Regions from separate parts of the Homo sapiens genome. Here region 2 is linked to region 1. Evidence: fine-mapped expression QTL. Tissue or cell type: blood mononuclear cells. Region 1 holds a variant in brackets; the other region holds the start of a gene. All regions are shown on one strand. Distances are between the middles of the regions.

Region 1 (15,816 bases):
TTTGTCCATGTTGTTTTACAAAAACAAGTGGAAAGTAGAAAAAAAGAGTAATCTCAAAAATAAGCAATATAAGTTTTCTATGCTTAATACACTTGCTTCCAAAATGGAGATCAGTGGCCAATCTTTGAGTTCAATTGAATGCTTACTGGACTTAAGTGGGTCCACTGTAGACTTAATGGCAAAGGAAAAGAACAACATATAAGAAAATGCTATAAATATGTAACTGGAATTTAAAACTATTTTGGACCTCTCAGAATCAGGGCCACTACGAGCTAAATGGTGTCTTGTGCAAATTGGGAAAAGGAATTCCTTTCTTTTCTGGATAAGTACAACTCTACATCAGGATACACATCTAGATTTCAGTCTAACCCTTGGTCAGATGCCCTTGTGTAGTGTACAGCCTTACCAACTCTACAGTGCTGCCTGGGATGGAACAACCACTTATAATGTGTAAGTCTCTAATTGCACTCTATACAGTTAATTTGATACATATTTTCATATTTACAAAAGCAGAGGACTGCCTGTGTACAGTTTTTCTGTTCACTTACTTGTAAATTAGAAGGCTTGTCTCATATTTGAGACATACCTATGCAATTTGAGAATGCAGGATCATTAACTATGAAAAACTGCCTGAAGGGCAAGACCAGGGTTCACATTCCCCTCCTTCAGCAATCCTACTGCCTTTTTAGAGCAGAAGCTGCTCTTTACCTTGTTTCCTAGTTATTTGGATGGCTTCTTCCTTCTTCTACTAGATTGTCAACTCTCTGAGGGCAAGAGCTGTTTGTCTCATTTGTCTCTTTACTTCTAGCAAACAGTACAGAAACTTGTGGGGGTTCGTTGATTTCACTTTGATAGACAATGACAAGAATTTCTGCAATAATTGTTGTTATAATGCAGAAGGGTTGATATATTTTCTCCAGGTGCTTGTACCTCTGAGCTTCTATAGCCTTCTGAGCATATGCAGCACCTGGCTAACTGATTTGCTTTTATTTTAGAGGTTGATGGGAAAACCACTCAGACACCAGGAGGTGTTATGGCTCATGGACGTTTGTTAAGTATCAGATGTTACTCAGGACTGAGTCATGCCTTTTCAAAAGGACTGCATTTGGAGACTGGCGGGTTCTAGCACTTTCAATGAATAGTGCATTTTTTTTTTTAGTGGGTTCCTTCCTATCCATGCCTGGGAGCATGGGCTGAGCTTTTGGAGTAAGCCAAATGGGATAAAGGGTCAGATGTCGGAAAAAGGAAGCACCCACAGTGGCCGTACATGTGATGGGCTTTTGGGCAGCACCACGGACCATGGAATGGAATGGCTTAGGTCCTCTTCATGAAGAAATAACTCTGGGATACACTTAGGAAAACTGCAGGACCCTTTCAGTTGGCCACACAATGGAGCTGCATCAGCTGGGTGCTGCCTCAAAGAGGAGTGAGTTGTGCTCATTTCCCGAATGTTGCAAATCTGGAAATTATCTTACGTTGGAAAAGCGATGACTGTTCCTGCACTCTCCCCCAATTTCCTGAAAACTTTGATTTTTTTAGGATATTCTGAGAAGAGTAAAAACCCACGGCTGTGGCCAGGTGTGGTGGCTCACATCCGTAATCCTAGCACTCTGGGCGAGAGAGACATCAGGTGGATCACCTTAGGTCAGAAGTTCAAGGCCAGCCTGGCCAACACGGTGAAATCTTGTCTCTACTAAAAATAAAAAAATTAGTCGGGCTTGGTGGCGCATGCCTGTAGTCCCAGCTACTCGGGAGGCTGAGGCAGGAGAATCGCTTGAATCCGGGAGGTGGAGATTGTAGTGAGCCGAGATCACGCCATTGCACTTCAGCCTGGGCGACAAGAACAAAACTCTGTCTAAAACAAACCAACCAACCCACAGCTGCTCCTTCTAAGCTATGTTTTATGCCACAGGCCCTTGGGTAATGTGTTTCCGCTTCTCCCCAGATAGAATACCACTCATTTTAGCTTAATGTCTTTGTTCTTGAAATTGTCCGTCTCACCCAATCTTCCTCCCATCTCAGAGGCAGGAATAAAGCTTACCTTGTTCAGCAAGCAGAGTACTGGCTCTTGGGTGGAGGAAATGTATTCACAATTTACAGATAAACCTCACAAAGTTGTTTCTGATCAGCAATTGCTTTGAGAGTGAATCTCTCCTCAAACTCCACCAGCAGATTGTGTTCTGTGTTGCCTTTCTCAGCAGCTTTCTGGATCCTTTTGGGCTAGGAGCAGCTCTTCTCGGGCTTCATGCTTATTTTCTGTAAAATGAGCAGGAAGTCAATGTCTCCTAAAGTCTTGCCATTTCAAAGTGTGCTCCTGGGACAAGGGGAATCTGCAGCACTCTGAAACTTGCAAGAAACGCAAAAAAAAAAAAAAAAAAAAAAAAAAAAAATTCAGGCATTGCACCAGGACTTCAGAATCTGTGTCCCCAGGTGATTGGCTTGTACATGGAAGGTCGAGAAGAGCTACTCTGAAGTCCCTTATTGCTATAAAGCTTTATGATTCTTTGGGAAGGTATCCTGTAGCAACAGCCAAAACACATTGAGTCCTTAACTCTGTGCCAGGGATTCTTACATGAGCTCATCTCATCCTCAGCACAAGCCCAAGGCAGGGGTAATCATGATTCATATTTTACAGGCGAGAAAGCTGACACTTGGCTCAGAGAAACTGGCTTCCTTGGCAAAGGTCACCCAGCTAATTGGGTACAGAGCTCGATCCACCCTCAGGTCAGCCTGACTTCAACCTCCCCTCTATGTGGTGTTGCCTCAGGGGTCCAAGGCAAGGTTTTGAGGAGGAATTGACCTGTGAACTTTGTATTGTCAGATGATGAGTTTGCCAGGTTGTAAGTGGGAGAGAGTCATTCCAGAGGAGAAAAGAACCAGCGAGTGGCCCAGAGGAAGGAGAAAGCTGGGCAAGTCCAGAAGGTGGTCTGAGATTTAGTTTTAACAAAATGAATGTTAATTTGGTATGAGCTTGTTTCTGTTGAGCACAGGGTGGGAGGAGGGAGAGATAGTCAGGTTACCGAAATTACCAGCAAGTTTAGATGAAATCTAATGACATTTTAATGTGTTTTCTGAAGATACTGTCTATTGAACTGAAATATATCACACCAGTGAAGTATGCTCATTGTTCTGGAGAAAGATCATTCTTGCGGATTGACTTTGATTTTTGTAATTTTGCTGCCAATATGTAAAAAAGGTCAACTTCACCCTTGCTACTTAAAGCAACTCCAAGTCAATAGAGCCTAGAAGTCTCTCTTTGGAAGGATGGATGTTACCAAGGAATTGTATAGTTGAAATTCTTCTTGCACTTGCCAGGTTCTGAAGTTGTCCTCAGGGGATCCCCATTTCACTGGGGAAAGGATCAAAGAGTCATATAGAGAGGCCAGAAGTAATTTCCTAACATAGTAGAGCCCTGGTAAAACCCTCAAAGTCAAATCTCAGAGCCATCTATTGGAGTGAACATTCTTTTTTTTTTTTTTTAATTATTATTATACTTTAAGTTCTGGGATACATGTGCAGAACATGTAGGTTTGTTAGATAGGCATACACGTGCCATGGTGGTTTGCTGCACCCATCAACCCGTCATCTACATTAAGTATTCCTCCTAAAGCTATCCCTCTCCTAGCTCCCCACTCCCCAACAGGCCCCAGTGTGTGATGTTCCCCTCCCTGTGTCCATGTGTTCTCAGTGTTCAACTCCCACTTATGAGTGAGAACATGCAGTGTTTGGTTTTCTGTTCATGTGTTAATTTGCTGGGAGTGATGGTTTTCAGCTTCATCCATGTCCCTGCAAAGGACACGACCTCATCCTTTTTATGGCTGAATAGTATTCCATGGTGTATATGTGCCACATTTTCCTTATCCAGTCTATCATTGATGGGCATTTGGGTTGGTTCCAAGTCTTTGCTATTGTGAACAGTGCTGCAGTAAACATACATGTACATATGTCTTTATAGTAGAATGACTTATAATCCTTTGGGTACATACCCAGTAATGGGATTGCTGGGTCAAATGGCATTTCTGGTTCTAGATCCTTGAGGAATTGCCACACTGCCTTTCACAATGGTTGAACTAATTTATACTCCCACCAACAGTGTAACAGCATTCCTATTTCTCCATATCCTCTCCAGCATCTGATGTTTCCTGACTTTTTAATGATTGCCATTCTAATGGGCGTGAGATGGTATCTCATTGTGGTTTTGATTTGCATTTCTCTAACGACCAGTGATGATGAGCTTTTTTTCATATGTTAGCTGGCCGCATAAATGTCTTCTTTTGAGAAGTGTGTTATATCCTTTGCCCACTTTTTGATGGGGTTGTTTGTTTTTTTTCTTGTAAATTTGTTTAAGTTCTTCATAGATTCTGGATATTAACCCTTTGTCAGATGGGTAGATTGCAAAAATTTTCTCCCATTCTGTAGTTTGCCTGTTCACTCTGATGATACTTTCTTTTGCTGTGCAGAAGCTGTTTAGTTTAATTGGATCCCATTTGTAAATTTTGGCTTTTGTTGCCATTGCTTTTGGTGTGTTAGTCATGAAGATTTTGTCAATGCCTATGTCCTGAATGTAATTGCCTAAGTTTTCTTCTAGGGTTTTTATGGTGTTAGGTCTAACATTTAAGTCTTTAATCCATCTTGAATTTATTTTTGTATAAGGTGTAAGGAAGGGGTCCAGTTTCAGTTTTCTGCATATGGCTAGCCAGTTTTCCCAACACTATTTATTAAATAGGGAATCCTTTCCCCATTGCTTGTTTTTGTCAGGTTTGTCAAAGATCAGATGGTTGTAGATGTGTGGTGTTATTTCTGAGGCCTCTCTTCTGTTCCATTGGTCTATATATCTGTTTTGGTACCAGTACCATGCTGTTTTGGTTACTGTAGCTTTGTAGTATAGTTTGAAGTCAGGTAGCGTGATGCCTCCACCTTTGTTCTTTTTCCTTAGGATTGTCTTGGCTATATGGGCTCTTTTTTGGTTCTATATGAAATTTAAAGTACTTTTTTTCTAATTCTGTGAAGAAAGTCAGTGGTAGCTTGATGGGGATAGCATTGAATCTATAAATTACTTTGGGCAGTATGGCCATTTTCATGACATTGATTCTTCCTATCCATGAGCATGGAATGTTTTTCCATTTGTTTGTTTCCTCTCTTATTTCCTTGAGCAGTGGTTTGTAGTTCTCCTTGAAGAGGTCCTTCACATCCCCTGTAAATTGTATTCCTAGATATTTCATTCTCTTTGTAGCAATTGTGAATGGGAGTTCTGGAGTGAACATTCTTTTTTTTTTTTTTTAATTTTTTTTTTATTTTTATTGATCATTCTTGGGTGTTTCTCACAGAGGGGGATTTGGCAGGGTCATAGGACAATAGTGGAGGGAAGGTCAGCAGATAAACAAGTGAACAAAGGTCTCTGGTTTTCCTAGGCAGAGGACCCTGTGTGTTTGTGTCCCTGGGTACTTGAGATTAGGGAGTGGTGATGACTCTTAACGAGCATGCTGCCTTCAAGCATCTGTTTAACAAAGCACATCTTGCACCACCCTTAATCCATTTAACCCTGAGTGGACACAGCACATGTTTCAGAGAGCACCGGGTTGGGGGTAAGGTCATAGATCAACAGCATCCCAAGGCAGAAGAATTTTTCTTAGTACAGAACAAAATGGAGTCTCCTATGTCTACTTCTTTCTACACAAACACAGCAACAATCTGATTTCTCTATCTTTTCCCCACATTTCCCCCTTTCCTATTCGACAAAACCGCCATCGTCATCATGGCCCATTCTCAATGAGCTGTTGGGTACACCTCCCAGATGGGGTGGCAGCTGGGCAGAGGGGCTCCTCACTTCCCAGAAGGGGTGGCCAGGCAGAGGCGCCCCCCACCTCCCGGACGGGGGGGCTGGCCGGGCAGGGGCTGCCTGGAGTGAACATTCTTTAAGCCCATCTTTAAAGAGTTTGTTAGAGGTCCTCACTCAGGGATGAATCACTTGGATAGAAACATGAGAAAGAAAAGAAAACCTATACATCACTCTCTATAACTTGGATTTTCCTCTTCTGAGGGGGTATCTGAATCATCTAGGAAGAATTGAACTATAAGGAACACAACCTGCAAAGAAAGGTGGCCTAAACCATGAGGACAGGTACCAAGTAGCCCTGAGTTAGGGCAGCTCCAAGGCTTGCCAATTGGGTGGATTTTCAATGACATTTTGAACTTGGGCTCTTCCCAGTCTGTCTTCTTCAGCCTGTTGGTTTGTCCTCTTGCTGGCCCCCTCATGGTCCCAAGATGGCGGCAACAGTTCCAAAAGTCTACTGGAATGATAAAAGGAAGAATCATCTCATGGATCTCTTTCAAAGAGGAGGGAAGCCTTTCCAGAAAGCCCCTCAGCTGACTCCTCACATCTCATTGGCTGTAACTGTGTTATATGCTCTCTCTTCAACCAATTGCCAGCAAGCTACACTTGGCTTGGATTGGTTAAGATTTTTTCCCTATAGTTGAAGAGGGCACCTTCCCTGGTGCTTGTCCAGGCTAGGCAGAGGGTAAAATCCTGAAGAAAATCAAGGTTCTACCAGCAGCAAAGAATGGATTTGGGTAGACAACCAATAAGAGCTGCCATTAACAATCACTTATTAAGGCCTGGCATGGTGGCTCACACCTGTAATCCTAACACTTTGGGAGGCTGAGGTGGGTGGACTGCCTGAGCTCAGGAGTTCAAGACCAACCTGGGCAACATGGTGAAACCCTGTCTCTACTAAAAATGCAAAAAATTAGCTGGGCGTGGTGGCACGCCTGTAGTCCCAGCCACTCGGGAGACTGAGGCACGAGAATCTCTTGAACCTGGGAAGCAGAGGTTGCAGTGAGCCAAGATTGCACCACTGCACTCCAGCCTGGGCAACAGAGTGAGACTGTCTCAAAAACAAAACAAACAAACAAAAAAACCAATCACGTTAAAAATAACAAAACATTTCTTCAACTTCTGAAGTCAAGGAGTGTAATATTCAACTATTATATAGAAATGCTGCGTAACAGCCACAACAATTTCAGCGGCATAAAACAATAATAGCCATTGATTGAGCTCATCTGTCTGTGGGTCAGCTGGAGGTAGTCTAAAGTAGACTAGGCCTGGCTGGACATGGCTCAGCTCCACCTGACTCTTATCCTTCTCCTGCAACCACAGACTGGTTTGGGCATGTTCTTCTCGCCAAGACGGTTGAGGTACAAAAGCCCAGGCCCGGAGTGTAGGTCTGTTCCAAGCCTCTTCTTGCATCATGTCTGCCAACATCCCATTGGCCAAAGCAGGTCTCGTGGCCAACCATGGCATCGGTGGGGCAGAAAGCCATGTGATGCCCACTTCATGGAAAGTCCCAGAGTCAAATGACCGAGGGTGTAAATACAGGGAAGGGTGACAAACTGGAGTCAATGATGCAATCTACCACACAAGAGGAAAGAAAGAAAATATTACATTGAAAATAAAATTGGGCTGGGTGTGGTGGCTCATGCCTGTAATCCCAGCACTTTGGGAGACCGAGGCAGGTGGATCACCTGAGGTCAGGAGTTCAAGACCAGCCTGGCCAACATGGTGAAACCCTGTCTCTTCTAAAAGTCCAAAAACTTAGCTGGGCGTGGTGGTGGGCACCTATAATCCCAGCTATTGGGAGGCTGAGGCAGGAGAATCGCTTGAACCTGGGAGGTGGAGGTTGCAGTGAGCCGAGATCATGCCATTGCACTCCAGCCTGGGCAACAAGAGGGAAACTCCATCTCAAAAAATAAATAAATAAATAAAAATAAAAATAAAAAATAAAATTAAGGGTAACTTTAAAAATCCTTTTTTTTTTTTTTAAAAAAAACTGTACTTTAACGATTTAAAATCTTTCTTTAGAGTATAAAAGAATTAGAGGCTGTTCAGGTGTGTCTAAACGTTAAAAAATTGTGTGTGGGTATGTGTGTATAGATAGCAAAGGGTCTCAAAAGCAGATTTTTCTAGCTCTGAATGCCACCACTACCTATTGTTCTATTAGCACTATATATTAGGGTATCAGTTTTACAGAGCTAACTACTCCCATTGCTCCCTCTCCCCCTCTTCAAAAGCAATCTGTACAGTCTATATTGAGGAAATAAATGAAAACCACTGAAATGAGAAAAAACAAGGCTGTTTATTTAGAACAGAAACTCAAAGGCAGGCAGGGGAATGGGGAAGCTTTATGGTGAAGAAAAAGGAAGACTTCGCATGTACTTTGATTGGAGGTTGTTGGCCTAGGGAAGCTGGAGGCAGACT[A/T]ATTAGAAACAGGGCATTTTATGTGATTGGTCCTGAGTTGGTTGGAAGCAGGGGCAAAAAATAGGGAAGCTGGCAGTTGTTGCCCAAAGCCTGACTTTTCTGGCTGATTGCTGCAGAGGCTGTGGTTTGGCTTCTGGGCAAGTGACTGCTAAGTTTGTGGATCAGAGGTCTACAGTCATCTAAGGTCTGGCCACTGTCCATTTGTATATTCAGTCTCTCAAGACACATCAGAGAAAGCTCCAGCTCCTCAGCATAGAATAAAGAGCCCTACACACTTGACTCCAAGCAAGGTGGGGTTTCTGATCCCCTCTCCTGACATCAGAGCCACCCCTACCCACAGACACATCCAGATCCCACCTCACCAAACCAACCATGGCAGGTCTTCCATGTCCCCCGTACAGAGTGTGTCTTTCTCATGCCATACCTTTGCCTGAACTTGCCTTTGGCCTGAATACCTCTCCATTGCTTTACACCTGTCCATCAAGAATGGGCCAAGAACCTGCACCCTGCACCTTTTCTCAATCTCTTTTCCTCCACCTTACCTGGTTCTACCCCAAACAGAATTAATTGCTTTTTTCTCTGTGGTCCCTGAACTATTTATATGTACATTTATTGGAGTGGGGGAACTGCACTGTGCTAAAGGCATTTGCTGCTGCTTTTTCCCTTCCCCTATGCTGTGAACACCCTGAAGAACATTATGCTTTATTTGTTTCTAGTATAGGACTCTGCAGATAGTAGTCTTACAACAAAGGCTTTTTTGAAGGAAGAACAGAGGAAGGAAAGAAGGAAGCAAAGAAGAGGGAAGGAAAGGAAGGTCATAGGTAGGGTTGACAGATAAAATACGGGATACCCAGTTAAACTTGAATTTCAGATGAATAACGAATAATTTTTAGTATAAATATGTTCCAAATATTGCATTTGTAATTTTTTTTTTTTTTTGAGATGGAGTCTCGCTCTGTTGCCCAGGCTGGAGTGCAGTGGCATGATCTCAGCTCACTGCAAGCTCCGCCTCCCGGGTTTTCACCATTCTCCTACCTCAGCCTCCGGAGTAGCTGGGACTGTAGGCGCCCACCACCACGCCCGGCTAATTTTTTTTTTTTTTTTGTATTTTCAGTAGAGACGGGGTTTCACCATGTTAGCCAGGATGATCTCGATCTCATGACCTCGTGATCTGCCCGCCTTGGCCTCCCAAAGTGCTGGGATTACAGGCGTGTGCCACCGCGCCCGGCTGCATTTGTAAATTTTTAAATATTCCATGGGACATACTCATACTAAAATACCAGTTGTCCCCTATACAAAACAAATTCAACTGGGCCTCCTGCATTCTTATTTGCTAAATACAGCAACTCTGGTCAAAGGGCAAACACCTAATTAAACATTATTATTACTATTATTTGGGGGGTTTTCTTTTTTTAAATGTCAGTCATTTTTGGGAAACAGGTGGTTTTCTCTTACATGGATAAATACTTTAGTGGTAATTTCTGAGATTTTGGTTCACCCGTCCCACAAGCAATGTACACTGTACCCAGTGTGTAGTCTTTTGTCCCTCACCCCCCTCCCACCCTTCTTCCTGAGTCCCCAAAGTCCATTATGTCATTCTTTTTTTTTTTTTTTTTTTTTTGAGACGGAGTCTTGCTCTGCTGCCCAGGCTGGAGTGCAGTGGCGCGATCTCGGCTCACAGCAAGTTCCGCCTCCTGGGTTCACGCGCCCGCCACCGCGCCTGGCTAATTTTTTTGTATTTTTAGTAGAGACGGGGTTCACCGTGTTAGCCAGGACGGTCTTGATCTCCTGACCTCGTGATCCGCCCGCCTTGGCCTCCCAAAGTGCTGGGATTACAGGTGCGAGCCACCGCGCCCGGCCCCCCATTATGTCATTCTTAGGCCTTTGCGCCCTCATAGCTAAGCTCTCACTTGTAAGTGAGAACATAAGATGTTTGGTTTTCCATTCCTGAGTTACTTCACTTAGAATAATGGTCTCCAACTCCATCCAGGTTGCTATGAATGCTATTCACATGAGTAGTATTCCATGGTGTACATATAACACATTTTCTTTATCCACTCATTGGTCACTGGGCATTTAGGCTGGTTCCATATTTTTGCAATTGCGAATTGTGCTGCTATAAACGTGTGTGCAAATGTCTTTTTCATATAATGACTTATTTTCCTCTGGGTAGATACCCAGTAGTGGGATTATTGGATCAAATGGTAGATCTACTTTCAGTTCTTTAAGGAATCTCCATTCTGTTTTCCATATTGGTTGTACAAGTTTACCTTCCCACCAGCAGTGTAAAAGTGTTCTTTTGTCACCAAATCCATGCCAACATCTATTATTTTTTGATTTTTTATTTATGACCATTCTTGCAGAGTAAGGTGGTTTCTCATTGTGTTTTTAAATTTGCATTTCCCTGATACTTAGTGATGTTTAACATTTTTTCATGTTTGTTCGCCGTTTGTATATCTTCTTTTGAAGAACTGTCTATCCATGTCCTTTGCCCACTTTTTGATGACGTTGTTTTTTCTTGCTGATTTGTTTCAGTTCCTTGTAGATTCTGGATATTAGTCCTTCGTCAGATGCATAGTTTGCGGATATTTCCTCCCATTCTGTGGGTTTTCTGTTTGCTCTTCTGGTTATTTGGTTTGCTCTGCAGAAGCTTTTTAGCTTAATTAGGCCCCATCTATTTATTTCGTTTTGTTGCATTTGCTTTCGGGTTCTTGGTCATGAACTCTTTGCCTAAGCCAACGTCTGGAAGAGTTTTACCAAAGTTATCTTCTAGAATGTTTATGATTTCATGTTTTAGATTTAGGTCTTTGATTCATCTTGAGTTGATTTTTGTATAAGGTGAGAGATGAGGATCCAGTTTCATTCTCCTACATGGGACTTGCCAATTATCCCAGCACCATTTGTTGAATAGGGTGTCCTTTCCCCACTTTATGTTTTTGTTTGCTTGGTTGAAGATCAGTTGGCTGTAAGTATTTGGCTTTATTTCTGGGTTCTCTATTCTGTTCCATTGGTCTACATGCCTATTTTTATGCCAGTACCATGCTGTTTTGGTGACTATGGCCTTATAGGATAGCTTGAAGTCAGGTAATGTGATGCCTCCAGATTTGTTCTTTTTGCTGTGTCTTGCTTTGGCTATGTGGGCTCTTTTCTGGTTCCATATGAATTTTAGGATTGTTTTTTCTAGTTGTTTGAAGAATTATGGTGGTATTTTGATGGGAGTTGCACTGAATTTGTAGATTGCTTTTGGCACTATGGTCATTTTCACAATATTGATTCTACCCATCCATGAGCATGGGATGTGTTTCCATTTGTTTGTGTTGTCTATGATTTCTTTCAGCAGTGTTTTGTAGCTTTCCTTGTAGAAGTCTTTCACCTCCTTGGTTGAGTATATTTCTAAGTATTTTATTTTATTTTATTTTTTGCAGCTGTTGTGAAATGGATTGAGTCTTTGATTTATTTCTCAGCTTGGTCGCTGTTGGTGTATAGCAATGCTACTGATTTGTGTACATTGATTTTGCTTCCTGAATTGATTTTGAAACTTTACTGAATTCATTTATCAGATCTAGGAGTTTTTTGGATGAGTCTTTAGGGTTTTATAGGTATATGATCATATCATCGGCAAACAGCGATGGTTTGACTTCCTCTTTACCGATTTGGATGCCCTTTATTTCTTTCTCTTGTCTGATTGCTCTGGCTAGGACTTCCAGTCTATGTTGAATAGAGGTGGTGAAAGTGGGCATTCTTGTCTTGTTCCGGTTTTCAGGGGCAATGCTTTCAACTTTTCCCCATTCAGTATAATGTTGGCTGAGGGTTTGTCATAGATGGCTTTTATTACCTTGAGGCATATCCCTTCTATGCCAATTTTGCTGAGAGTTTTAATCATGAAGGGAAGCTAGATTTTGCCAAATGCCTTTTCTGCATCTATTGAGATAATCACATAATTTTTGTTTTTAATTCTGTTTATGTGAAGTATCACATTTATTGACTTGCATATGTTAAACTATCCCTGCATCCCTGCTATGAAACCCACTTGATTATGGGTGTGTTATCTTTTTGATATGCTGTTGGATTCAGTTAGCTAGTATTTTGTTGAAGATTTTTGCATCTATGTTCATCAGGGATGCTGGTCTATAGTTTTCTTTTTTTGTTATGTCTTTTTCCGGTTTTAGAATTAGGATGATACTTGCTCCATAGAATGATTTAGGGAGGATTCCCTCTTTGTCTTTTGGAAGAGTTTCAATAAGATTGGTACCAATTCTTCTTTGAATGCCTGTGAATCCGTCTGGTCCTGGGCTTTATTTTGTTGGCAATTTTTTTTTTTTTTTTACTGTCTTAATCTTGTTATTGGTCTGTTTAGAGTTTCTATTTCTTACTGATTTAATCTGGGAGGGTTGTATATTTCCAGGAATTTATCCATCTCTAGATTTTCTAGTTTGTGTGCATAAAGGTGTCCACAGTAGCCTTTTGTATTCCAGTGGTATCAGTTGTAGTATCTCCCATTTCATTTTTAATTGAGCTTATTTGGATCTTCTCTTGTCTTTTCTTGGTGAATCTCGCTAATGATCTATCAATTTTGTTTATCTTTTCAAAGAACCAGCTTTTTGTTTCATTTATCTTTTGTATAGGTTTTGTTAGTTTGATTGTTTCCATTTTATTTAGTTCTGCTCTGATCTTGATTATTTTTTTTTCTTCTGCTGGGTTTGGGTTTGGTTTGTTCTTGTTTCTCTAGTTCCTTGAAGTGTGACCTCAAGGCTGGGGCACATTAGCCCTACCACCACACCCAGCTATTTTTCTGTCTTCTTGTCTGATGTTTTCTCACCCCAAGCCAGCACCACTGCCCTGCCAACTGCCAGGGTATCCTCAGATTCTAGGAGCACTGCCTATTATTATTATTTTTAATTATTCTTATTTTTTGAGACTGGGTCTCACTCTGTTGCCCAGACTGGAGTGCAGTGGTGTGATCTTGGCTCACTGTAATCTCTGCCTCCTCAAGCAATCCTCCTGCCTCAGCCTACCAAGTAGTTGGGACTGCAGGTGCACACCACAATCCCTAGCTAATTTTTGTATATTTTGTAGACATGGAGTTTTGCCATGTTGTCCAGGCTGGTCTTGAACTATTAGACTCAAGCAATCCTCCCACCTTGGCCTCTCAAAGTGCTTGGATTACAGGCATGAGCCACCACACCCGGCCCCTGATTAGACTTGAAAATAGTCTGATTCCTAGGCCCAGAGAAAGTCTCTTGGGTCCACTTTTCCCTTCCCTGTTTGCAAGAACTCTGCCATGGGGCTGGCCAGGTTTACTGCTGTTGGGCTGACATGATAAACCCACCAAAAGGGTGGCTCCTTTTTTGGAGATCAGAAACTAGGCTGGTGGTTGCCCAGAGAGTGCTTTGAAGCATCATAGAGGAGAGGAAATGCATGGAATGATTGTGGGAAGACAGGGAGAAGGAACCATAGGACCCCTTTTCTAAGTCTCAGGCATTTCCTCCTCATGGAAGATGTGAGTTGACTGTAAAATACAAGGAGGAAGGCTTCCATGATAAAGCATGGTGTTCAGAGGAGCCCTGCAGAGTCAGGAAGGAGGGAAAGACAGAGGCTGGTCCACACGGTGCCCCAACTCTCATTCTGGACCCCAATTCATCCATTGACATTGCAGGGAGAACGTGTGCAGTGGGCTGAATGATGACCCTAAAAACCTGCGAACGTGACCTTATTTGGAAACGGGGTCTTTGCAGATGTAATTAAAGATTTTGAGATGAAGTGGTCATCCTGATTATCCAAGTGAGCCTGAAATCCAATGACACATGTCCTGATAAAGGACACACAGAGGAAAAGACAGAAACATGGATGAAAAGGCAAAGTGAAGACAGAGCAAAGCCGTCCAAGCCAAGGAATGCTGATGGCACTAGAAGCTGGAAGAGGCAAGAAAGGAGCCTCTCCTAGGGCCTTCAGAGGGAGCGTGGCCCTGCTGACACTGCCGACACCTGGATTTCGACTTCTGGCCTCCAGAACTGTAAGAGAACAAATTTCTATTGTTTTAAGTGGCTGAATTTGTAGTAATTTGTTATGACAGTTGTAGAAAACTAATGGGACATAGGACTAGAGTCCTAAAGCCCAGTCCATGGTCAGGGAAGTGGAGAGGGAGCTGAGGATATCCTCCCCAGGGGCCACAGACTCATGTGAATATAAAGCCTTTTTTGGTTTCTTTTGAGTAAATCACTCGCAATCCCATAGATTTCTGATTTTTTTTTTTTTTTTGAGACAGATTCTTGATCTGTTGCAGGCTGGAGTGTAGTGGCCTGATCTCAGCTCTCTGCACCCTCTGCCCCCTGGGTTCAAGCAATTCGGGTTCAAGTGATTCTCATGCCTCAGCCTCCTGAGTAGCTGGGACTACAGGCATACACTACCATGCCCGGCTAATTTTGTATTTTTAGTAGAGACGGGGTTTCACCATGTTGGCCAGGCTGGTCTTGAACTCCTGGCCACAAGTGACCCGCCTGCCTCAACCTCCCAAAGTGTTGGGATTACAGGCATGAGCCACCGCGCCCAGCCAGATTTCCAATTTTATATAAGACCAAGCCCTACTTACCAGATACTTTTATATAAACTATTCAGTTGCTACTAACATTGGGCATAAGGCATTGTTTTACACTTTAATATCATGTACAAAACCACTTTTTTTTTGATAAAGCAAATCAGTGGTTTCCAAGTGGGGCGCTCAGCACAAGGTGCTGGGTTGTGTGAAAAAATATTGGAACTTTGGGGCTAAAAAAATAACAAAGCAATTATACTTTCCTAATCTTTTAATGTTCAGAAGATGATACTTTCAAGGATCATTTCTATCATTTGTTACTAGAAAAGTTTCTCTGAATGTGTAGAACACCAAAAAGTATTAAACAAAAATTTTAAAAACCCACAAAGCACAAAACGGACTCAGCTTGACAGTCATAGCTTTCCTCAGAGGCTCCTTTGCCACCCATGGCACAGGTGCAGCCTTGAATGCTCTGTGATGTGGGGGCCGGTGCTGGTAACCTCACCACCTGCACATCAACACTCAGGGGAATCTGAGATAGTTTGGTCTATTCGCAAGTGGGTAGATGGATTTATAAACTACACAACCTAGGCCATTTTTTGTTTTTGTTTTTAAAGAGACAGGATCTGGCCCTGTCCCCCACACTGGAGTGCAGTGGTGCGATCTTAGCTCACTGCAGCCTCGAACTCCTGGGCTCAAGCAATCCTCCTGTCTCAGCCTCCTGAGTCGCTGTGACTATAGGTGCATGCCACCACACCCAGGTTTTTTTTTTTTGTTTTTTGTTTTTTTCCTGTAGAGATGAGGTCTTTTTGTGTTGCCTAGGCTGGTCTCAAATTCCTGGCCTCAAAAGATCCACCTGCTTCAGCCTCCCAAATTGCTAGGATTTATAGATGTGAGGCACTGGACCCAGCCCATGATCTAGTTTTACCAAAATTGATCTTTACAAAATGAAAATGTTTTAATAGATTATTATAGATTGAAGATTAAAGATAATACTAATAGTATAAGTCCCAGAAAACCATAAGAAATT
Region 2 (15,816 bases), 39 kb after region 1:
TTCACTGTAATCAGTAATCTCAGTGTGCAACTGTTGAGGCTTGAGTTTACACGGCAATAATCCTCTTACCTTCTAATCAAGATCACTCCAATAGCTTTGCAGTTAGACTTCCAACTGCATTATGCATTCACAAATTATTTCTTTGTCAATGCTGTATTGGTACAATTCTAATCTCCTAGGGATTAAACACAAGTATTCATTCTTCTTTATCCTAATATAGTTTATCTCCATCAAAGTTGAATTTTTATGTTTTCCATGCTAATTCCTTTGTGTAATTAATAGTCCATTTAAAATGAATAGCAATTAAGAGAAAACACCTATATGTCTGTATGTTGTCTACTACAGTCTTTTCTGATTCAATGAGTTCTTGACTACTTAGAAGAGGCATGTATAATTTTTGGATTTTTCTCATATATTTTTTCTCCTCTTCTTTCCTCTTATTCACTTCTGAGCAATTTCATCCTTTACTAACAATGCCACAAATGCCAGGTTGGTATGATAGATGAAAAGATGTAAAAATTGCAATAATACTTTCTCTCAGGGACTAATGTATCGCATAGTACATGCTATGCTGTCAGAGTTGACCAAAGAAGAAAAGTCTTTTCAGCCAGGTACCATGGGCCACACCTGTAATACCAGCACTTTGAGAGGACAAGGTGAGCCCAGGAGTTTGAGACCAGCCTGGGCAACGTGGTGAAACTTCATCTCTACAAAAGTTACAAAACTTAGCTGGGCATGGTGGTGCACACCTGTAGTCCCAGCTACTTGAGAGGCTGAGGTGGAAGGATCGCTTGAGCCTGGGGGGTCAAAACTGCAGTGAGCCATGATCATGCCACTGCACTCCAGCCTGGGCAACGGAGCAAGACCTTATCTCAAAAAGAAAAACGTCTTTTGATATAAAATAGGATTTCAAGTAGATTTAAGCTAGTCATACACTTATTCATTAAAAAGTATTGAACAATTACAAATAAATATTGTTTGGGAAAGTGACAATGTATTTAAAGCCGTACAAAGACTAATTCTTAGTGACCAAGTCTCTGTAGCCCACCCCCCCCCAATGTTTTAACTATTTTAGACAATTGGCCACATGGCATTTCATAATTAAACAAACATGGGTTATGTCTTTTATTTTTATTTTTTTTTAAGATGGAGTGTCACTCTGTCTCCCAGGCTGGAGTGCAGCGGCATGATCTCGGCTTACTGCAACCTCCGTCTCCCAGGTTCAAGTGATTCTTCTGCCTCAGCCTCCCAAGTAGCTGGTGAGAGGTGACAGCGTGCTGGCAGCCCTCACAGTCCTCGCTCGCTCTCCGCACATCCTCTGCCTGGGCTCCCACTTTGGCGGCACTTGAGGAGCACTTCAGCCCGCGGCTGCACTGTGGGAGCCCCTTCCTGGGCTGGCCGAGGCCGGAGCCGGCACCCTCAGCTTGAGGGGAGGTGTGGAGGGAGAGGCGCGGGCGGGAACCGGGGCTTCCCGTGATGCTTGTGGGCCAGCGCGAGTTCCGGGTAGGCTTGGGCTCGGCGGTCCCCGCGCTCGGAGCGGCCAGCGGGCCCCGCCGGCCCCGGGCAGTGAGGGGCTTAGCACCTGGGCTGGCGGCGGCGGAGGGTGTAGTGGGTCCCCCAGCAGTGCCGGCCCACCAGCGCTGCGCTCAATTTCTCGCCGGGCCATAGCTGCCTTCCCGCGGGGCAGGGCTCAGGACCTACAGCCCGTCATGCCTTAGCCTGCCCCCGCCTCCGTGGGCTCCTGTGCAGCCCCAGCCTCCCAGACGAGCACCGCTCTCTGCTCCACGGCGCCTAGTCCCATTGACCACCCAAGGGCTGAGGAGTGTGGGCGCAGGGCGCGGGACTGGCAGGCAGCTCCACCTGCAGCCCTCTTGCTGGATCCACTGGGTGAAGCCAGCTGGGCTCCTGAGTCTGGTGGGGACTTGGAGAACCTTTATGTCTAGCTAAGGGATTGTAAATACACCAATCAGCACCCTGTGTCTAGCTCAGGGTTTGTGAATGCACCAATCCACACTCTGTATCTAGCTAGTCTGGTGGGGACTTGGAGAACCTTTATGTCTAGCAAAGGGATTGTATATACACCAATCAGCACCCTGTGTCTAGCTCAGGGTTTGTAAATGCACCAATCAACACTCTGTATCTAGCTAGTCTGGTGGGGCCTTGGAGAAACTTTATGTCTAGCTACGGGATTGTAAATACACCAATCAGCACCCTGTGTCTAGCTCAAGGTTTGTAAACACACCAATCAGCACCCTGTGTCTAGCTCAGGGTTTGTGAATGCACCAATTGACACTCTGTATCTAGCTACTCTGGTGGGGACTTGGAGAGCCTTTGTGTCCACACTCTGTATCTAGCTAATCTATTGGGGACTTGGAGAACCTTTGTGTCTAGCTCAGGGATTGTAAACGCACCAATCAGTGCCCTGTCAAAACAGACCACTCGGCTCTCTGTAAAATGGACCAATCAGCAGGATGGGGGTGGGGCCAGATAAGAGAATAAAAGCAGGCTGCCGGAGCCTGCAGTGGCAACCCGCCCCCGTCCCTTTCAACACTGTGGAAGCTTTGTTTTTTCACTCTTTGCAATATATCTTGCTGCTGCTCACTCTTTGGGTCTACACTGCTTTTATGAGCTATAACACTCACTGTGAAGGTCTGCAGCTTCACTCCTGAGCCAGCGAGACCATGATCCCAGCAGAAGGAAGAAACTCCGAACACATCCGAACATCAGAAGGAACAAACTCCACACGTGCCACCTTAAGAGCTGCAACACTCACTGCGAGGGTCTGCAGCTTCATTCTTGAAGTCAGTGAGACCAAGAACCCACCAATTCTGGACACACTGGGATTACAGGTGCATGCCGCCACGTCCAGCTAATTTTTGTATTTTTAGTAGAGACAGGGTTTCAACACGTTGGCCAGGCTGGTTTTGAACTCCTGACCTCAGGTGATCCACCCGCCTTGGCCTCCCAAAGTGTTGGGATTACAGATATCAGACACTGCCTGGCCGGTTATGTCTTTCTTGATTCTAATCAGTATGTACATAATTTTGCATAGATATATTGATTAGGGAGGCATTTATGAAGGGCAGGTAGTGGAGAGGCTGGGGTAAGGTTAGGTAATAGGAGTTCTAGGGGATTCCATACTTTGGCCTATAATGGAATTGTAGCCTACCCAGCACTTTAAACATTCCCGATTGACTCCAATATTTGTTCTTCTAGCCACTCCTTCCCCTCTCAGCCAATGTACTTAGGGAGAAGCTGATCCCATGCTAAGTTCCAGGAATGGGCTTTATTTTCCAGGAATGAATCCATACCCTTTCCAGTAAAGGGCTCTGGAATCCAGGTCTAATGAGTCCATACCCTTTCCAGTAAAGGGCTCTGGAATCCAGGTCTAAGTGCCATGTGATTGGTTTAGGAATGGACCAATGAGACACTGTGAGGAAGTTTCCTGAGGGCTTCTGGGAATTTTCTCATAATAGAAAGCTACCAGAATTCACAGGCCCTTTTCATCTTGACTTCTTGTCCATAGACCTGAGGCCAGGGGCTGTGGCAGGCATTTTGTAGGCAGCCTAAGGGTGAAACATGCACAAGAGAGAACAAGACAACACCACAGAGAAGCAGAGCTCAGTAATGGCTGAGCCCTGCCTCACCTCCACCATTCCTAGACCTTCTCAGTCTCTTAGCCAATGAACAGCCTTGATTTTAAAGCAATTTTTATTTGAGTTTTTGCTTCTGGAAGCCAAAACAAACATTTTAGCCTATGGAATCCCAATTTATACTTAACGTTTTTATTTGTTAATCTTTAAGTTTCAGAATTCTTTTCTGATTATAAAAATAATACATACTTATTGTAGAGAACCAAGAAAACATTGAAAGATATAAAGAAGAACATTAAGACCATCCATAATCTCACTATCCCTAGATAACTGCTATTGAGTTTTGAGTTAGTTTCCTCTTTATGTATCCAAACTTACACAGAAATTTTACACATATATTTATCCTGCTTTAATGAAATTCACAGCCTAGTGGGAAATAGAAACAGACAAACAAAAACCGAACAAATAGATGAATATCTGCGACTATGGAACGTCATAGTAACTACTAACCTTGTGTTCACTGTTTTTGGGTAAATGTTGCTAATAATGTTATACCCCATCTCCACAACCCAGAACAAATCAAAGATTTATGTTAATAACTATTAAAATATAATATGCTCTAAAGTATAACAATGTCTCATAATGCCACAAAATCAACCAGTTACCAATATGTTCATTTGGTTTCCCTTCAGTAGGATTTCTTATGGGAAATTGTCCCCTGTCAGTGACTGGTTTCGCTCAACTGTCATTAGGTCTTGTCACAGTAGTTTAATTACAGCAAAAATGGCTGTTATATTGATCATTTTGACAACACACACACAAAAGGTTCAGTATTCATCAGTGTGCTGGGTAAAAACCCTTGGAGCAGGGCCCTCAAGAGGATGGAAGTTACATTGCTATGATTAGTACCAAGCCCATCAGTTCTAAATGTTTTCTAATTTCTATTATGATTTTATGACCCATGAGTTAATTGGAATAGTGGAAATATGGGGCTTGCCAGTTACCTTTTGGTTATTGATTTTTAACTTACCTATATAGTGACCAGAAAATGTGGTTACTATGATATAAATCCTTAGATATGTGGAGACTTGCTTTATGACACAGTATGTTCAATTTTTGTAAATGTTTAGCATATTCTTGATAGGAGTGTGTATTCTATGGTCATTAAGGCAATATTCTACACATATATATTAGATTAAGCTTGGTAATTGTGTTACTCAACTCTTCCAGTACCTTAAAGATTTTTTTGGTCCCCTCGGTCTATGTATTAGTTTCCTGTAATCAGTTGCTTAACAAATTATCACAATAGGTGGCTTAAAAAAACCGACATGAATTCTCAGTTCTGGCATCTAGAAGTCTGAAATCTACATGTTGGCAGGGTCACAATCCCTCCAGAGGCTCAAGAGGAAAATTTGTCTCTTCCAGCTTTGGGTGCTGTCAGCATTCCTTGACTTGGGAATGCCATCACTCCAATCTCTGCTTCTGTGGTTACATTACCTTCTCTTCTCTTCTACCTCTCTTTTATAAAGACACCTATCATTGGATTGATGGCCCACCTGGATAATCCAGGATGATCTTCTCATCTCAAGAACTTTAATTACATCTGCAAACGCCGTTTTTCCAAATAAGGTCATACTCGCAAGTTCTAGGAATTAGGATATGGACATATCTTGTGGGAGGCTGTATTCAACTCACTGCAATTAGAGAGGGAGTGAAAAATCACCTACTCTGATGGTAGATTTCTTTGTCTTCTTATACTTCTGTTCATTTTCGCTTCATATATTTTGTGGCCATATAGTCGCTATGATATAAATCCTTAGATATGTAAAGACTTGCTTTATGACACAGTATGTTAGAGACACTTTTTTGACTCTATCTTCCCTGTATATTGGACTTTTTTTTTAAATGTAAAGACCCTTCTTTATCCCATCGCACTCACCCAGCCATCTACCTAGAGTCTGTTGATGATAAACCATTAGTTGTTTGAAACAGAATTTGCCTTCCTTCTGCCTCTCTTTTTGCCACACATGTAATTCTAAGGTTTTATGTTTTCCCCTTCAGCATACCACTTAATTCTCTTTTTTTTTTTGGAGACAGTCTCACTCTGTCACCCAGGCTGGAGTGCAGTTGCGCGATCTCGGCTCACTGCAGCCTTGACCTCCAGGGCTCAAGTGATCCACCTAAGCCTCCAGAGTAGCTGGGACCACAGGCACACGCCACCATGCCAGGCTAATTTTGTTTTTAGAGGCGTGGTCTTGTTATGCTGGTCTGGCTGGTCTCGAATTCCTGGGCACAAGCGGGCCTCCCATCTCTGTCTCCTCAAGTGGTTGAATTACAGGCGTGAGCCACTGCGCCCAGCTCGCATTTTTTTTTTTTTTTTGAGATGGAGTCTCGCTCTGTTGCCCAGGCTGGAGTGCAGTGGCGCGATTTCGGCTCACTGCAACCTCTGCCTCCCGGGTTCAAGCAATTCTGCCTCAGCCTCCCGAGCAGCTAGCTGGGACAACAGGCACGTGCCACCACGCCCGGCTAACTTTTTTGTATTTTTAGTAGAAACGGGGTTTCCCGTGTTAGCCAGAATAGTGTCGATTTCCTGACCTCGTGATCCGCCCGCCTCAGCCTCCCAAAGTGCTGGGATTACAGGAGTAAGCCACCGCGCCCGGCCTGAGCCGGCATTTTTAAAAGTTGGGTTGCTGGCCTTAGTGCATACAAACGTAAAGGAATTTTAAAAACACATGAGTAACTCAAACGCATTTCTTTTTTGCGCCATCCTGCTATGTGTGATTCGGTTTTTATTCTCGATTTTGTGCGTGTGTGTCGCGACGGCTGGGGACCGACCCAAGAGCAGTCGGACCACGGGCCGCCCAGGGCGGTCTCATCCGTTTATAACCTGCGACCCCGGGGCCTCTTGTGGTCCCGTACCTCCGTCCCAAGCAAAAGCCGGGGCTCTCAGGCACTCAGAGGTGCGAAGGCCCCGTAGACTTGGAGGACGCGAGGAAAACACCTCCAATCACTCTGGCCAGTCCACAGCTACTGCCAAGACTGCTCCGCGCGCGTCCTCAGGAACCGGCGAGGGCCTCGTCGTCATGGTAACCAGATTGCGAACGCGCGTGCGCAAGACACACCTTTGTCACGTGAGGCCGGGCAGGGGGCGGGGCCGGCGAATGCCCGTCCCGACCCGTCGCGCCTCCCCTGTTAGCTCCCTGCCAGCCGAGGCGGGGCGAACCTCTGCCCTGTTGCGTGGGAGTGACTCACAGCTCCCGCCCCTTTTGGCTCCGCTTTCTCGCGGCCAGTCCCTCGCACCACGTGCCCTCCTGGCCGCGCCCCCAGCTGCCCTTTCCAACTGCCTGTTGGAAGCCGCTGTAAAACGTCGTGAGGAGCGCCGCTGCTTTACGGCTGCCTCTCCCAGACTAGAGCCCCGGAGCGCCCACCGCCGTCAGCCGCGTCTTCAAGCTAGTCGGCCCCGCGGAGAGCGAGAGACCCTGCGCACCGCAGCCCTCTCCGCTGCGCCCATTCCTGCCGCCGGCGATGTAACTCGGGGAGGCAGCGGTGCCCGCTGGCCCGGGGTTGAGACAGGCGGCAGGTGCCTGTGAGGCGGGCGGGTGCCGGGGGCCAGCAGGATGGAGGAAAGCATGGAAGAGGAGGAGGGGGGCAGCTACGAGGCGATGATGGACGACCAGAACCACAACAACTGGGAGGCTGCGGTGGACGGCTTCCGGCAGCCCCTGCCACCTCCGCCGCCCCCCTCGTCGATCCCGGCCCCTGCCCGAGAGCCTCCGGGGGGGCAGCTGCTGGCGGTGCCCGCGGTCTCCGTGGACAGGAAAGGCCCCAAGGAGGGGCTCCCGATGGGGCCGCAGCCACCGCCGGAGGCTAATGGGGTGATCATGATGTTGAAGAGCTGCGACGCGGCCGCCGCCGTGGCCAAGGCGGCCCCCGCCCCCACCGCCAGCTCCACCATCAACATCAACACCTCCACCTCCAAGTTCTGTGAGTCCAGCCTTTCCCTGCAGCCTTGGCTTTTCTCCACCTCACTCGGACGCCGAATCCACCCCCTCTTGGAGAAAGCTCCGCTTCCTTTGTTTCAGGCCTCGGTCTTTCCTCTTCTCCCCGTCCGCCTTCGCCTCCCTGCCTCCTTCCCCCTCACCGTCCCCTCCCCCTCATTTGGTGTCTGCGGCCAGCGCCTGAGCGGCCCTGGCTTCTTGTATTACCTGGCCTAGAGAGGCAGCCTGGTACACACGGAGCCCCAAGTTCGGTCAGTGCGATCCCTATCACAACTGGCAGTCTCTCAACATTGGGAAGCTCTTTTCGCACCCGTCTTCTCTTGAAGTTTCACCCTCAAAGTGAGGGGAAAATAAGGCTGCCTGAGTCTCGTTAGGGAAAGGCCTTCAGTCTTCTGCAGCCAGAGAGAGAAAAGAAATCTGGCAACTTGTGTTCTTGTGTTTTTGGCCAGGCTGTGTTAAACAAGTAAGGAATTTGAAAGTTGACCTATATCTACACCTTGTTCCTTCTCTACTGTGTTACACTTTTGCATCCTGCTAGGGAAATAATGAGTTGCTTTCCGATGCAGTGGCAGCTCCGACATCGTCTTGAAGCTAATAATGCATAAAATCACTTTTCAGAGCTTACACTCATAAGAATAAGCCTTTCAGGATGGGTTATGTCTTGTGTCCAAACCCAAGATTGGGTTGCATGTTGAACTTTATGTTAGTAGTCTGTCTTAACGCTCAATTGCACGCATTAAGATTTAAGACCAAAATCTGTTTTGTAATCCGAAACTGCCTCTGACCAGGATATATGTATGCTTCCATAGCTAGGAAAAGAATGTGCTTTTACTTTGGTTTGTGTGTATGTGTGCGTGGCGGTGGTGGTGGTGATAGGATGTTGAAAATGATTGTGACCATCACAGCCAGGTTTTTCTCTCCTATTATTAACTGCAAGTTTTGAGTGGCATCTGGTAAAGCAACTGGAGAGTTCATTTCTAGCTACTAATTTTATGAAGCTGTACTTGTCCAGTTAGCTGTGCAGAGAAAATATTTGCCTTGATGCAGATAGTCGGAATCTTACACACTGTGTGTGGGAACAGCGCGTAATTTTATTTGCCCCAAGATACTGCCTTAGTCAAAGACATTGATATGTACGTTTGGTAAGATTATATACGCTTTTTCTCCTTATTCATGATAATCATGTTTATATTGTATAGTTTGTGTGTTGAAGGCTGTGTTGTGGAACCAGACCTCCTGTAGAGTGGCAGAATGACTTCACCTGAGTCACGAAGGAAGATTGCCTTAGTAAAGTTCCTTTGAAGAGTTCAAAAAAGAGCATAAAGTTAGGAACAGAAATCAGTAAAATTGAGAACAAAAGGATTTGTCACACCAAAAGATTATTTTTGTGAAAAGATGAGTAAGCTAGGCAGACAGACCTCTGATAAAAACGACAAGAAAAAAAGATGCAAATAAATGAAAAATGGAAAATAACTACAAATATCAGATTAAAAAAAGAACGTTATGAACTTAGGCTGATGAATTTGAAAGCCTAAATGAAAAATATAGTTCTTAGAAAACTAGTAAATGTGAAAATTGGTATCAGAAGAAATATCTTGAACTAATAAACTGAAATGGTAAAGATCTCCCTTTTTAGAAGCTCTGCATCCAGATACGCTGATGAGTTCCACCATACTTTAACACTTAATTCTTTTTGCAAGTTGCACTGGAAAATAGAAAAAATACCAAGTTCATTTTATGAGGCTTGTGAAATCTTGATTCTAAAACAGATAAGGACATGTAAGAAGAGAAAATTATAGGTCTGTTTTACTTAGCATAGAAATGAAAATACTGCAGAATAAATACTCGCTCATCAAATCCAACAGTGTGTTACAGAGTCCTGATCCATAGAGTTAGTCCTAGAGATGAAAGCATGGTTTAACATCTACTTATCTAATTTAGCTCTTTAATAGACTAAAGGAAAAAAATTACGATTATCTCAATTGGTGCCCTGAAATCATTCAACTAGATCCAGCAGCTATTTATGATAAAAACTCTTGGTAACCTAGGAGTACAAGATAACTAGATAAAGGTCATTACCAAAAACCTTCAGTAAATAATAATACTTAATGGAGAAATTTTAGATACATATACTTTAAGATCCGTAACAAGATAAGGATGCTCCTGTCATTACTACTGTTTAGCATTGTAGGAAGGTCCTGGCTAACATTATAAGGAGCAAAAAAATAAGGTATAAAGATTGTAAGGGAAGCAATAAAAGTTATTATTTGCAGATAATATGATCACCTACCTAGATGAACCATTAAAATCCAGAGAAAACTTAGAACTAGTAAGAGTTTAGCAGGATTGCTGGATTTAAGATAAACTTACAAAAATTTGATAGCATTTACTAAACTAGTGATAACTAGTAAAGATAATCAAAAGTAAATACTATATGTAATAATAGCAACAAAACTCTAAAGTCTCTAGGAATCAACCCGTGAATACGCAAGACCTTTAAAAAGGAAACTTTAAAACTTGAAAAAGAAACTAGAGGATAATCTAAATAAATGGTACAATTTTCCTTGCTCTTGGATCAAATTACTTACAAGAATACTAATTTTCTCCAATTTATAAATTCAGTTTAAATGACGTCAAAATTACATTTGGTTTGACAAACTCAATAGCCTAAGTCTAAAATTTATATGGTGTGTGGGATAAAGTTTGTGAATAACAGAATCAATCTTAAAGATTTGTTTGGGGATGGGAGGCTTGCCTTATTAGAAGTTAAGATGTCAAGGCTGTAGTTAAAGTGGTGTAAGTGCGAGAACAGAAAAATAGACCAAGGAAACAAATTGGAGGGCAGAGACTTACCTGGATACATGTATAAAAGTTGGGAACTTTTTAAGTGGCATCATAAACCACTGGAGAAAGGAGTCATATGTTGTTAGGGAGAGTGACTCACTATATAGAGAAAAAATAAATTTAATATCATAAATGGATAGACTCCAAATGAATTAAAGACCTAAATGTGAAAAGAAAAACCAAAGTTAACATTATTGAAAATGTTAAGCTCTTTCCCTAGGGACAGGGAAGTACTTTTTAAAGCTTCAAAAGTTTATAAAGGTGAAAAATTAATTATTTTGATTATATGAAAATTATTCATTTGGCAAAAGATGAAAAAATTAGAGAAGATATTTACAGTGCCTAAAATTAACAAGGGATGATGATCTGACTAGACAAGGGACTACTTACTATACATCAACAAGAGGGCAGCAACTTCTGTAGAAAAATAGGCAAAGGATATTAATAAGTAGCTTATAGAAAGAATAGGAAACCCTAAAAAGCATAAGAAGAGATGAATTTATTAATATTCAGAGACATGCATATTAAAATAGTAATGGAAAAGAGTATAATTGGATTGTTTGTAAAACAAAGGATAAATGCTTGAGGTGATGGTACCGCATTTTCCCTGATGGGATTATTACACACTGTATGCCTGTATCAAAATATCCCATATACCTCATAAAAATATATGCCTACTATATACCCACAAAAATTAAAGAATAAAATAGTAACGGAATGTCTTTTTCCACCTTTAGGTTGACAAAAATTAGAAAGCTGAATGAATAGTGCCAAGTGCAATGGGGATATGGTAATACAGGAAAACGTATACTTGCTTGTGGGAATAGCAGTGTAGTGAACTTGTGAGATGTTGAGATGTCCGAAGTCTCTGTGGACCAGATAGTGGAAGATAGCTGCCGCGTTAATGTATCCCTCAGCTATGGCAGTGAAGGTATACTTTAGACTGTAAGGTGAAAACAGCTTCTGTTGGTTTCTAGTTTTGGGACAGAGATAAAAAGCATTTATTATCTTGATGGATACATGGTAGGTGCCAGGGATGGTGTTGATTTGTCACAGTGAAGAGACCATGTCTGGAACAGCAACTAAAATTGGAGTCACTTTGGATTTGATCGATGATAATCCACAGTCATGCTCCAAGACTCATCTCTTTTGCTCTGGCCAAACAGACCCATGAAATAAGAATGTCATAATTATCACCATTCCTTTTTTTTTTTTGAGACAGTCTCGCTCTGTCGCCAGGCTGGAGTGCCGTGGTGCAGTCTTAGCTCACTGCAATCTCCGCCTCCCGGATTCAAGCAATTCTCCTGCCTCAGCCTCCTGAGTAGCTGGGATTACAGGTGTGCACCACCATGCCCGGCTAATTTTTGTATTTTTAGTAGAGATGTGTTTCACCATGTTGGTCAGGCTGGTCTCAAACTCCTGACCTCAGGTCATCCACCCGCCTTGGCCTCCCAAAGTGCTGGGATTACAGGCGTGAGCCACCACGCCCGGCCCTCCTTTCTTATTTTTAAAGTCTTTGACATTGATAGTGTTTTCTATAGTTCCCACAGAGATGTGTTGTTTGTTGCTTCGAGTTTATTACTTTGGTAGGAAAGGGTACATCTAGCCCTTCCTATGTTGATATTCCTGACTTCACAGGTTAGGGAACCATGAACTAGTTTCAGAACTGGGGGAGTTACAGTGTTACTACGGGTCCACCAGCCCTACTGTGAGATGGATTGAGGCCAAAACACCATTTATGTGACGTCCATAAGCCCCTGATCTGCCTGGTTTACCATAGTGACGTTCCTGTCTCTTAGGGTTCGTATTGGCTTAGAGCCAGTGTTTATTAATCTTTGAAAAGTCTCAGTGATTTCCATTTCCCAAATGTACTATCTCCCTAATAAATACCTGCATGTTCTATTGGAAAAGGCTAGGAGGAAGACTTTAATTATGTGGGGTTCTTCCTCAGTGGAACTCATCCTCTTCTTTATTCCAGCATTTCTGTGTCTGTGAATAGGCTCATTGTGGGTTTTAGGTGAGGTTACATGGCTTTCCATTATGCCACTTAGGTGAGACCTCTGTTTAATATATCTAGAGTTTTTCTTTTCTGTCCATTATAACAGATCAAGTAATACCCCAGTATATTGCCTTTGTTTTCCTAAGGATATCATGGTTAGCCACCATGAGGGAGATCCAAGCCACCAGAAATCCAAGCCACCAGAAATCCAAGCCATTCTGCTGATCACTCTGGCCCTGCTGCCTCTTTAAATAATCATGCCCATTTTATATCTGGAAGTTATTTCCACTTCGTCACTCTGGAAGTAGAACTATTCCACTGAAATCAGGGAACCTCTTTTAATGGCAGTATTGCCCATCGTTAACCCAGAATTACAAGGGACAACCACCACAGCATTTTTTTCAGTAATTATATTTAATTATTTATATATTTCTCAGTTGGTGAAGGACCTTCTCAGAGCACAGTTCAGGGAGTAAGAGTGGGTTAGAACATGACAAATTTATATTCCTTTCTTCATATGTCTGGACTCATTTCTCCACGTACTAAGTAATTTCTGTTCTGACTGCTTCCTCCCTCCTCCTGACTCTTCTTCCTTTTCCTTTCCTCTTTTTCCTGTGTCCATTTTCTTCCTCCACACCTCTTCTCCTCCATTCAATATAGTGTACCCATTTTAGGTGTGCAGTTTGATGCATTTTAACCCATGTCGCCGTCTGGTGTGGAATTTGATTTTACCCTACTAATACTTAAAAGGTAGCCTATTACTGTTACAGGTTGACTATCCCTCATCCAAAATGCTTGGGGCCAGAAGTGTTTTGGATTTCAGATTTTTTTCGGATTTTGGAATATTTGTGTTATACCAAATGATTGAGCATCCCAAATCCAAAAATTCAAAATCCAAAATTTTCCAGTGAACATTTCCTTTAAGCATCATATTGGTGCTCAAAAAGTTTCAGATTTTGGATTTTTGGATTTAGGATTCTCAACTTGTATTACTGGGTGCTGACATAAGATGGGGGACTCCTGAGTGAGAGATGAAGGAATTTATTTTTCTTGTCATAGCACACAGCATGAGAATTGCTATATTTGCATAGTTTCCCCTTCCCCCAAGTCCCAAGAGGGTGACATACTATGACCAAGATGGATGCTCTCTCAGTGGTTCTGTGTTGCAGCTGAAGAACATCAAACTTGGGGAATCCACTACTTTTATAGAAAGCAGTGAGCAAGCCTGCTCTTTGTCTAGCGGGAGATGTTATCTCGTCTTTCAAGGTTACCAGGTACAGAATGGCCCAGGTTCAAGAGTGATTGCATTCCTGGCATACTCAATAAGACATGTCGGAGTGCGTGAGGCCCACGGAGGACTGTCTGTCCAGCAGTAACCACCACAACAACCAAGAGAACATTTCTGTCACCCTGAAATACTTCCCTATGTTTCTCTGTCTCTCTCTTTTTTTTTGGAGATGGGATCTCACTCTGTCGCCCAGGCTGGAGTGCAGTGGCACGATTTCGGCTCACTGCAACCTCTGGCTCCCGGGTTCAAGTGATTCTCCCACATCAGCCTCCCGAGCAGCTGGGATTACAGGCACACACCACCACACCTAGCTAATTTTTGTGTTTTTAGTAGGGATGGGGTTTCACCATGTTGGCCAGGCTGATCTTGAATTCCTGGCCCCAAGTGATCTACCTGCCTTGGACTCCCAGAGTGCTGGGATTACAGTTGTAAACTACCATGCTCTGCCTTCCCTGTGTCTCTTTGCAGTCAGTTAACGCTGCCTGCTTCCTCCAGCCCCAAGCATTCCTACTGATCTGCCTTCTGTCACTGTAGGATTTCATATAAATGAAATCATACAATGTGTATTGTTTTGTGCTTGGCTTGTTTCTTATTCTGTTCTTGAGATTCTTCCACGTTCTCGCATATGTCAGTTACTTATTCATTTTTCTGACTGAGGAGTAGTAGTTTTTTTTTTTTTTGGATATCCCAAAGTAGTCTTTTTTTTTTTTTTTTGATTTACCAAAAAATCATTAATTTGTTGGTCATTAGGTTGATCATTTAGGTGGTCTCTGGTTTTGGCTGTCATGAACACAACTGCTGTAAACAACCATGTACAAGGTTTGGTGTGGGTAAAGGTTTCATACAAGTGGAATTCCTTGCTTATATATTACTGATACGTTTAACTTTATGAGAAACTGCCAAACAATTCTTTAGGGTGGTTGCACCATTTTACACTCCCATCAGCTGTATATGACAGCTCCAGTTGCTCCACTTACTTAATTGGCACTTGTACTGGTTAGGCTCTGCATTCTTGGTATTGTCAGTCTTTTAAAGTTTAGCCTTTCTAGAGCATCGGTCCCCACCAGGGACCAGTTGCGTGGAAGAGACAATTTTTCTGTGGACTGGGGGATGGTTTTGGGATGAAATTGTTCCACCTCGGATCATCAGGTCTTAGAGTCTGGTAAGGAGTGCGCAACCTAGATCCCTTGCGTTATAGGGTTGGCGCTCCTTTGAGAATCTAATTCCTGCGCTGATCTGACAGGAGGTGGGGCTCAGGTGGTAATGCTCGCCGGCCCACAGCTCACCTCCTGATGTGTGGCCTGGTTCCTTACAGGCCACCGACCGGTTCCTGTGGCCTGGGGTTGGGGACCCCTGTTCTAGAGAATCGTAGTATCTCTTTGTGTATTTATTTTGCATTTCTCTTTTACATGTGCCGTTGGCTTTTTCATGTGATCATTTGCTTGCCTTATAATTTTGTTTGTGATAATCTGCTCACATCTTTTGCTCATTTCTTTTGTTGTTTGTCTTAATGTGTTTAAAGAATTCGCTATAAATTTTGGATACAAGTTTTGTCAGACAACTATTATTACTGTTTTCTCCCTCTGGTTTGTCTTTTTTTTCTTAACGGTGTCTTCTGAAGAGTACATGTTTTTCAGTTTTGATAATGTCTAAACTGTCAATTTTTTCTTCTAGCTGTTGTTTTTTGTATCCTAAGAAATATTTGCCTACCCCAAAGTCAAGATTTTATCTGTAATTTTTCTTAGCAGTTTTATGGTTTTAGCTTTTACGTTTAGGTCTGTGATCTGAATTATGAGTTGATGTCTGTATAGTGTGAGATAAGGATTGAGGCTCCGTTTATTCTATATGGATATCCAATTGTGTTGGCACTATTTGTTGAAAAGACTATCCTTTTCTTACTGGGTTACTTTGGAAACTTTGTCAGAAATAACTGACCATGTATGTGTGGGCGTCAGTTCTATTTCATTAATCTTATTTAGTCCATCAGATTTAGGATTGTTGCATATCTTCTTGATGAATTGACTGTTTATCATGATGGAATGTCTGACTTTATCCTTGTTAATATTCCTTACCCTAAAGACTCCTTTTTTTTTT

The links.
Region 2: CACUL1 starts here. The variant in region 1 is fine-mapped to the expression of CACUL1 in blood mononuclear cells (TOPMed, PIP above 0.99). The same link has a PIP of 0.9 or more in whole blood.

The regions. Positions count from the first base shown.
Region 1 is chr10:118,785,216-118,801,031 of GRCh38, reverse strand. It overlaps LINC03036 (long intergenic non-protein coding RNA 3036), which reads left to right. Exons shown (of 4, transcript NR_186540.1): 4 at 13,990-15,816. Among named protein-coding and RNA genes, the nearest start is that of CACUL1, 38 kb to the right of the region's middle. RefSeq lists an enhancer at 5,208-5,763. The variant A/T (reference allele first, on the strand shown) is at 8,255.
Region 2 is chr10:118,746,157-118,761,972 of GRCh38, reverse strand. It overlaps CACUL1 (CDK2 associated cullin domain 1), which reads left to right and starts at 7,003. Exons shown (of 9, transcript NM_153810.5): 1 at 7,003-7,577. The coding sequence starts at 7,211. LOC107987151 (a long non-coding RNA gene) reads left to right here and starts at 2,524. Exons shown (of 2, transcript XR_001747604.3): 1 at 2,524-3,340; 2 at 3,387-4,220. RefSeq lists enhancers at 6,642-6,936, 6,935-7,074.